Homo sapiens: one gene and its partner. The protein of the gene in region 2 interacts with the protein of the main gene of each other region in a pairwise test. Each region holds a gene or a part of one and is shown on either strand. Other genes may lie near its edges.

Evidence for each region.
Region 1: the proteins of PRMT2 (region 2) and WASL interact in a two-hybrid assay, tested with the Homo sapiens proteins (one large-scale study listed by BioGRID and IntAct).

The regions. Positions count from the first base shown.
Region 1 is NC_000007.14:123,689,842-123,693,608, forward strand, and holds part of WASL (actin nucleation-promoting factor WASL), read right to left. Parts: intron 3,027-3,767; coding exon 2,506-3,026; intron 1-2,505. UniProt on the Homo sapiens protein: Regulates actin polymerization by stimulating the actin-nucleating activity of the Arp2/3 complex. Involved in various processes, such as mitosis and cytokinesis, via its role in the regulation of actin polymerization.
Region 2 is NC_000021.9:46,649,079-46,652,845, forward strand, and holds part of PRMT2 (protein arginine N-methyltransferase 2), read left to right. Parts: intron 1-496; coding exon 497-661; intron 662-2,727; coding exon of another isoform or gene 2,728-2,928; exon of another isoform or gene 2,929-3,766; coding exon of another isoform or gene 3,767-3,767. UniProt on the Homo sapiens protein: Arginine methyltransferase that methylates the guanidino nitrogens of arginyl residues in proteins such as STAT3, FBL, histone H4. Acts as a coactivator (with NCOA2) of the androgen receptor (AR)-mediated transactivation.

The DNA of each region.
Region 1 (3,767 bases), on a different chromosome or scaffold from region 2:
TTTTAATACATACATATATAATATATATTTTTGAAATTCTTAATCATTTCCCAAAGACAATTTTATTTAGACAAACTTTCCATTTTGATCTGTACAATTCTTCCTCTAATACTCCTTGTTCTTTCTGGAGTAAACACCTTTTTTAAAAAAATTCAAAGTGGTTCCCCCTAAGATATAGATTCATTCCTTAGTATTTTGGCTTTAAACATTATGTATTAACTATTTCCAGTATAGAAGTACCACAAATGAAAAAAGATAACAGAGAGTTTCAGAGCTTTGTATTTCTGCACAAGGCTCTCAAGGAGGTACAACAGCGGTAGGGACATTTAGACTACCTTTAAGCAATGTGATAATGTAAAGCAGAGAGCACAAAGCAGAAGTGAGCATACTCTCATCAAACACATTTTTTGAAGTGCTTACTTGAACAAAGTACTATTTGAGGTACTAAAACCATGGAATTCAAAAATATATGTGAGTATTCAATACCTCCTACTAGCTCTTTAAAGTAAGTCTATGGTTTTATGTTAATCATATTCATCACAGAATAAATTGATGATTTACTCAAAAAATTTAAAGAAACATAGCCATAGAAATTTCAACCACAAAATGGTCTTTTTCAAAAAATAACGAACTCGGATTACATGTATAACATGCCAATAGTTCACTGATTATGCACCCTATGATTGCAATAAATGCAATCAAAAGGAAAGTGATTATTTAGGATAAAAATGGCCCCCATTCTTACACATCAATTAACAGGTTTTGCTGCTTCTTTTTTTTTTTTTGGAAAGAAAGGGAGAGTTGGGATGGGAGAAAGTTATGGAGAAAGTAAATAGAAATTTAACTCTTAAACTTTTTAAAATAAATGAGGATACAACTTTATTCGTTAAAAATTTTAAATCACCTTATTATAGCTAAATGAGAGAAAGAAACAAAGTTGGTTTGTGAAAAGGAAATAGAAAAGGAAAACAAAAAGGTGGGTTAGGAGTGAGAGTTACGGGAATGAGAATGACACAGGAACTAGCAGAGATTCCAAGGTAAAAGCTGGGCTGTGGTCATTTTGACATTAATTCTCCCCACTAACCACTCTTTAAAGTTCTTCAACTGCTCTTGACAGGCCTTTAGTCTGATCTAAAGGGGGAAAGAGAACAGAGATGACTGTTCATAGGTTTAAGTGTCATCCTGAATACATGTAAAGAAAAGAGCTAGATATATTTTAAAGATCAGAGTCTTCTTAGATCTATGCTAATGTTTACATGTTTTCATTCAATTAGTTGTGCTTCCTATCTATTACCCTCCTTTTAGACAAAGTTTCTGAGATCTAGAAAGTTACTTTAATTCCTATACTGGGAAATAATTTTCAATTAAAACATCCTCTGTCGTCTCCATTTACTTCACAGAAAAACTCTATCATCCATGACCTCCCTGAAGTCCTGGAGAACATGTTATAAAAGGCTCCAAAAGAAGTATGTAAATGTAGACAGGTTAGGTTCTAGGATAGGAGTCAGCAAACTTGAGCCCATGGGCCAAATCCAGCCTGTTCTTGGATTTTTTTTTAAAACTATCTAAAAATTAAGCTTGATTTTTACATTTTTAAATGGCTGAAAGAAAATAAGAGTATTTTTGATATGTGAAAGTTATATAAAATTCAAATTTCAGTGTCCAAATATAGTTTTATAGAACACAAGCATGTCCATTCATTTATGTATTGTCTGTGGTGCTTCTGCGGTAAAACAGCAGAGCTGAGTGGTCACAAGAGGCCATACTGCCTATATAAGCCCAAGGTTTTACTACCTGATCCTTTATAGGAAAATGTTTGCTGAACTCTAGAAGATTAAATGACCTGTAAGATTAAATGATTACCTCATCCAAATCAGATAATCCTAAATTTATTTGCCATCACTGTCAGAAATTCTATTACAACTCTTTCAATTTTTTTGGTCTGATTCTCTACTAATCTAAATTTTAGAACATGAAAACTTTGGAACATGATTTAATTTTCATAAAGCTACTGGTTTAGATTTCCTAAGGTGATCACAATTGGTTTCAAGTAGGGCTATTTTTAATTCTCACAGCTTAATAAGGATTTTTCTTTAAAGTACCTTTTATTTGAAAGTAAAGTCTAGAACAATGAATTGCAAACATCCTGTAAAATTCCATTCACATGAAGTTCTAGAATAGGTAAAACTAATCTATGGTGATTAGATCAGTGATTGTTTATGGAAAAATTAACTGGGAAGAGGTATGAGAAAACCTTCTGGGGTGACAGAAATACCCTACATTTGGATATAGAGATATGGGTTACATGGCTATAGAGATGTATCAAAGCTGAATTAAAAATTTGTGCATGTCACTGCATGTAAAAGTATTTTTAAATTTATAGGGTTAAGAATGAATTAGCAAGAGGAAAAAAGAATACACTTTTCAAAAATATCTTTCAATAAATTACTTTAAAATTCCATTATGATAAAGGATCTAAAATGAAAAAAAAAAAAGCTTACTTACAGATTTTAGTTGGATACCCTGTCGTATCTGGTCTAACAGTGCATCTCGTCCAGAGCAGGACACTGGCCGACTGTTCTGCTCCACTTTTTTTAGCTGAGCACCCTCTCTAATTTGATCTAAAAGAGCTGCTTTGTTTCCTGCAGTAGTTGGAACCTGATGGTCCCCATCAGAAGGCAGGCCAGGCGGGGGCGGTGGCCCAGGAGGAGGTGGAGGTGGAGGCGGTGGGGGTGGTGCCACTGGCCCTACCCCCAACACAGATGGAGGTGGTGGTGGAGGCCCTGAAGGTGCTGAGGAGGGAAGGGCTGGAGGTGGAGGAGGGTACATCCTATTTGGCGGTGGTGGAGGGACTGCTACACTTGGCCTGGAAGGAGGCGGTGGTGGAGGTGCAGCTGTGGGAGCTCTTGAAGGTGGTGGGGGAGGAGCGCCTCTTCCCCTAGCAGGAGGAGGAGGAGGACCTGAGTTGTGTGGAGGGGGAGGAGGAGGAGGTGGCCCTCCCCTTGATGGTGGTGGAGGTGGTGGTGCTGAAATGCAAACAGAAAAAAAGAAGGCATGCTTTTTTCTTCTCATAAACATCATATTGAAAAGTAATTCATTTTAACATGTATAAAAATTGAATAATACCAAAAAAGGGTCTCATCTTTGCATTTTATTTTACAAAGATACCTGAGCACAGATGATATCTCACAATTTTTTTTGAGAATTGTCAGCCTAAAGATCACTTTCTTATTGGTTCTTAAAAAAATATGAGCTAAAACAGAATAGTTTATTTTTTTGGAATTAGTACCAGTTCTGAAAGTAAGGGGAATAAACATTTTCTACTTTACAAAATAATAACAAAATATACCAATGAAATTAAACATTTTGTTAATTAGCATTAGTTTACATTTTAATAAAAATAAATACCTTCCCTCTTTAAAAAAGAATCAAGTACACTTATTTTTTTAAGTAAAATCAATTCACATTCAGAATTATAGTGTAGCATAGCTTAATAGAATTCATTCACATTAATCTGCGCTAAAGCCCAAATATAATGCTTTCCTTTCAAAATGTAAGCCTTTGTCATTTAATTTACATTTGTACTTTTATAGCATAATGTCTGTATCTCTAAAAATTGTCTGCAATTCTAGTAATGGCATTATAGGAGGCTGGTTGCTTTGTTGAAATGCTCAATTACTTATTCCAGAGACATGAACTGGTTATTAACAAATTAACTGAGAATTTCCATACACTGCAAAATTAAAGTTATTAACAAAAATTACTAT
Region 2 (3,767 bases):
GACTCCTTACACAGTGGGTGGGGTCGCAGCACAGTGTCCACCCAAGTCCAGGCTCTGCAGGACCCAGGACCCAGCGCTTGGGTGCTTCCCACCAGACCCTTCCCTGAGAACCTGGGTTTGAAATTGTCTGACAGGCCTCAGATGTGGCACAGACCAGCATTGTCACTTGGGTGCTAAGAAGTTGCTGTGCTGGTCATGGATTAAGATTGCTGTGCGTGTGGCAGCCGGCTCGGGCATGCGAGTCTTCCATCCACTTGCAGCCCTGCGTCTGTGTCTTGTCCGGGAGGTGGGGGCAGTTGGGAGGGTTAGAGGCGGCTCCTTTCTGGGTGCCCCTGGAGGGGCAGGTGTGGCCAGTCCTCGCTGCCTCTGCTGTCTGGAATGCTGCTTCCCTCTTGTGTCATTGACCATTTCTCGTGATGCTGGTTGTGACTCAGGAGAGTAGATGACGGGCCGTGTGCCGGCCGGATGTACGCTGACGGTGCCTCTGCTGCTGCAGGTGTACGCGGTGGAGGCCAGTGAGATGGCACAGCACACGGGGCAGCTGGTCCTGCAGAACGGCTTTGCTGACATCATCACCGTGTACCAGCAGAAGGTGGAGGATGTGGTGCTGCCCGAGAAGGTGGACGTGCTGGTGTCTGAGTGGATGGGGACCTGCCTGCTGGTGAGGGCGGGCGTGCGGGCAGCTGGGGGCCGGAGCTGGGGGGCTTCTGAGCACGGGCTCGGCTGGGCCAACCTCAGGATCTCAAGGGTCGTGCGTGATTCATTTTGATGTTTTCCCTAATGTGAGGTCTAATTAATTTCTTGTGTGGACATTGGCTCAGTGTCTTGAATTTTCACCTGATTTAAAAAATGCCTTTATGAGAAATTTAAGTCAAAGTTCATGTAACATTTTCATGAGTGATTTACATGAACTGTGTTCTCCTCGGGGATCTGTAAAAATCCTGTGCCTAACAGGTAAGGCTGTTTCTTTAATGCCAGTAGGGCCTTCGTCCCTGGCCAGGGTCTCCTCGCCTTAGACTGGCCCCAGTGATGCTGTGAAGCCACTTGGGCATCTGTAGGGCCAGCATATGCCTGTCCTGTCAGGGTTGCTCACCCTGAGTTTCACATGTGGGTGGAAGTGGACTGTTTTCTGGTTGCCTGTGAATATGCCCTGCACAAACGCTGTCTGCTTGGAGGGAAGTTGACGGGAGTGTGGCTGGATGCTGTCTGCCCGCGCTGTCTTCCTGGGCTCAGCATCCTGGGACACAGGACATTGTAGTGGAGCATCCCAACCTGAAACTTTGTCTCAGTGTAGAGACCCAGAAAGATGGGGTCTGGGTGAAGGAGTGTGGAGTATGGCTGCTGCTTTCCAGGAAACGGTTTCCCCTGGTAACAGATGGCATTGGGCTTTTAGTCCTGTTGAAATTTTGTTGTCAGAAGATAAATGTAAATAGACTCAATGTCCATGCTGTGACTTGGCTTATTAATAACATCTGTGGAGCCATAAGATGACACACAGGAGAAACGGGCTCCACTCCTACCCCCTGAAGGGGCATTTGCCTTTGCCCTGAACAGCAGCGCCCATTCAATAAGTATCTGTTGACAGCTGGTGCCCCGGCCACGGGGACAAAAAGAGGACAGAGCAGGAGTGAGGCTGTGGTGAGGCCAAGGTTGTGTGGGCGGTGATACGGGGAAGCCTGGCTGCTGGAGTGTCCGGCTGTGCCCTGGATTGGGTGAGAGGGACACAGGAGGGACGTGGGGCAGAGGGAGGGGAGAGGAGTAGCCACTGTGTTCACCGTGTTGCCGTGTTCCAGGGCTGCCCAGTGGCCGGATTGGCCAGACTGTGTTGCATCAGGGAGGCAGAGGCCAGATGTAGGGAACTGTGTGTCTGAGGACTTTGTGCCACGTCCTGGACACCGAAGGGAGTGCCACTGGTGTGTGAGTGATGGAGTAAGAGGTGGGCTGTGTTTTGGAGGCCCCTGGGTATGTGTGGCCGGGACTGGAGGCCAGGGACTGGCTGTGGTCCAGCCCCAGCATGCAGAGAGGCCTGGGACATTCTGTGTGAGGGGAGGCCCCTCTGTGTGGGAGGTGCACAGACTTCCAGGACTGACCATGGCTTTATTGTCAGGATGCAGGAGCCAGGGCTTGGCATGGGGCAGGTGTGGGGGATGCAGAGCAGGGCCAGCAGGCAGGATGTGCTGATGGGGGCCTGGCGTGAGCAGGACGGTGCCTCCCAGCCCTGAGCCGCAGGGAGTGGGCCACCAGGACTGGCTGGGGGCCGGGGTAGGGAGGGCCCTGGGGAGGGTGGACATCTGTGTGGGTCTTGAACATAGGATGCCCATCCGATGTGCAGGGCCAGCTATTGGTTGGGCAGTGGGGACATGGCCTGGGGTCTCGGTGGGCGATGGCCTGGAGGGGCCACCCTGAGCAGGACATTTGGAGGAGTGCTGGGGTGAGTCAGACAGGACCATGTGGTGGTTTTCTCCAGTGCAGGCAGTGGAGGGGGAAGGCGGAGCTTTGCAGGTGAGGGCTTGAGGCAGTTCCGACTTCAGACTCCCCCCCAGGGAGACTGAGGGACCACCACCATCATTACTCAGGCCAAGGAGGCCCAGAACAGGGCAGACGGGGCTGCAAGAGTTCCTATGGCGATAGTTGTTGGGGCACAGGGTTGGTCGGATTTGAGGGAGGGAGGGTATGAATCTGGGAGTCGTTGGTGCGGTTGTACCCACCTTCACTTTCCGTCCCCAGGCTGCGCCTCTCCTGAGCTGCCGCATTCTCCCCTGCACCTGTGCGTCTGGCCCTCTTCACGTCCTCCTGGCCTGCTGTCTGCCTCTCCCCTGCACCTGTGCGTCTGTCCCTCTTCATGTCCTCCTTGCCTGCTGTCTGCCTGTTCTCAGAGCCCCTCAGCCCTCAGGCCTTCATCTCTCCTGGCCCATCTTCCTACTCTGACGCTGACATGTAGTAAAAGTCTGAAGACAGAGAAGAGTGCATGTGCGTTTAGCATAGGAGGGGCAGCTTTCAGTCAGTGCAGCAAGGGCATGTAGTTGTTCAGAGATGGTGCTGGAACGACTGATTTGGAGAAAAGAGGCCCTTCTTCACACCATCTGCTAAAATAAACCTCAGATGGGCTCAAGAGTTAAATATTTAAGAAAAGGAGGAAACAAAAAAATTGCTACAAGTTTATTTGTTGTTAGGATGGGAAAGGTTTTTCTAAGAACCAAGTTCATAATGAAGCTGTCAAATAAAATACTTGACAAAAAATTCCCCTTCATACATTAGCACAGCTAAAAACTATTAAATGGTAAATGCAACTAAAGAATTGCAGCTAAAGAATTGTGTGACGTAAAGAGTTGCAATAAGAAAAGCATAAGATAAAGGTAACCTCATGGAAGGTGAGCAGGGACTAGAAAGGCAGAGAAATGCCAGAGGCCAGGAGCTTGAACGTTGTTCAATGCCACCAACAATTTGAAAGTAACTGTAATAGTTTTGACCTGGGAAGTTGGCTGAGCAATCCTCTAATATCTGATGCTCCCGATGCTGAGGTTGTGGGGAAGTGTGCACCGCCATGCCCTTTTTTTGGCAGTGTAAATTGGTAAAGCCTTTTGAAGGAAAATAGGGCAGAATAAGTCAAAGAGCATTAAAATTTTTTTGTTTTTCCAGAAGCAGCAAAGTTCTGAAGGAGACGCAAGTAAAGATACCACAGGTGTCCTAGATTGTCAACAGACCATTTAATCATTTTTGTTAACAAAGCAGGTGACAATTGAGCCCTAATTTGCGTTATCATTAGT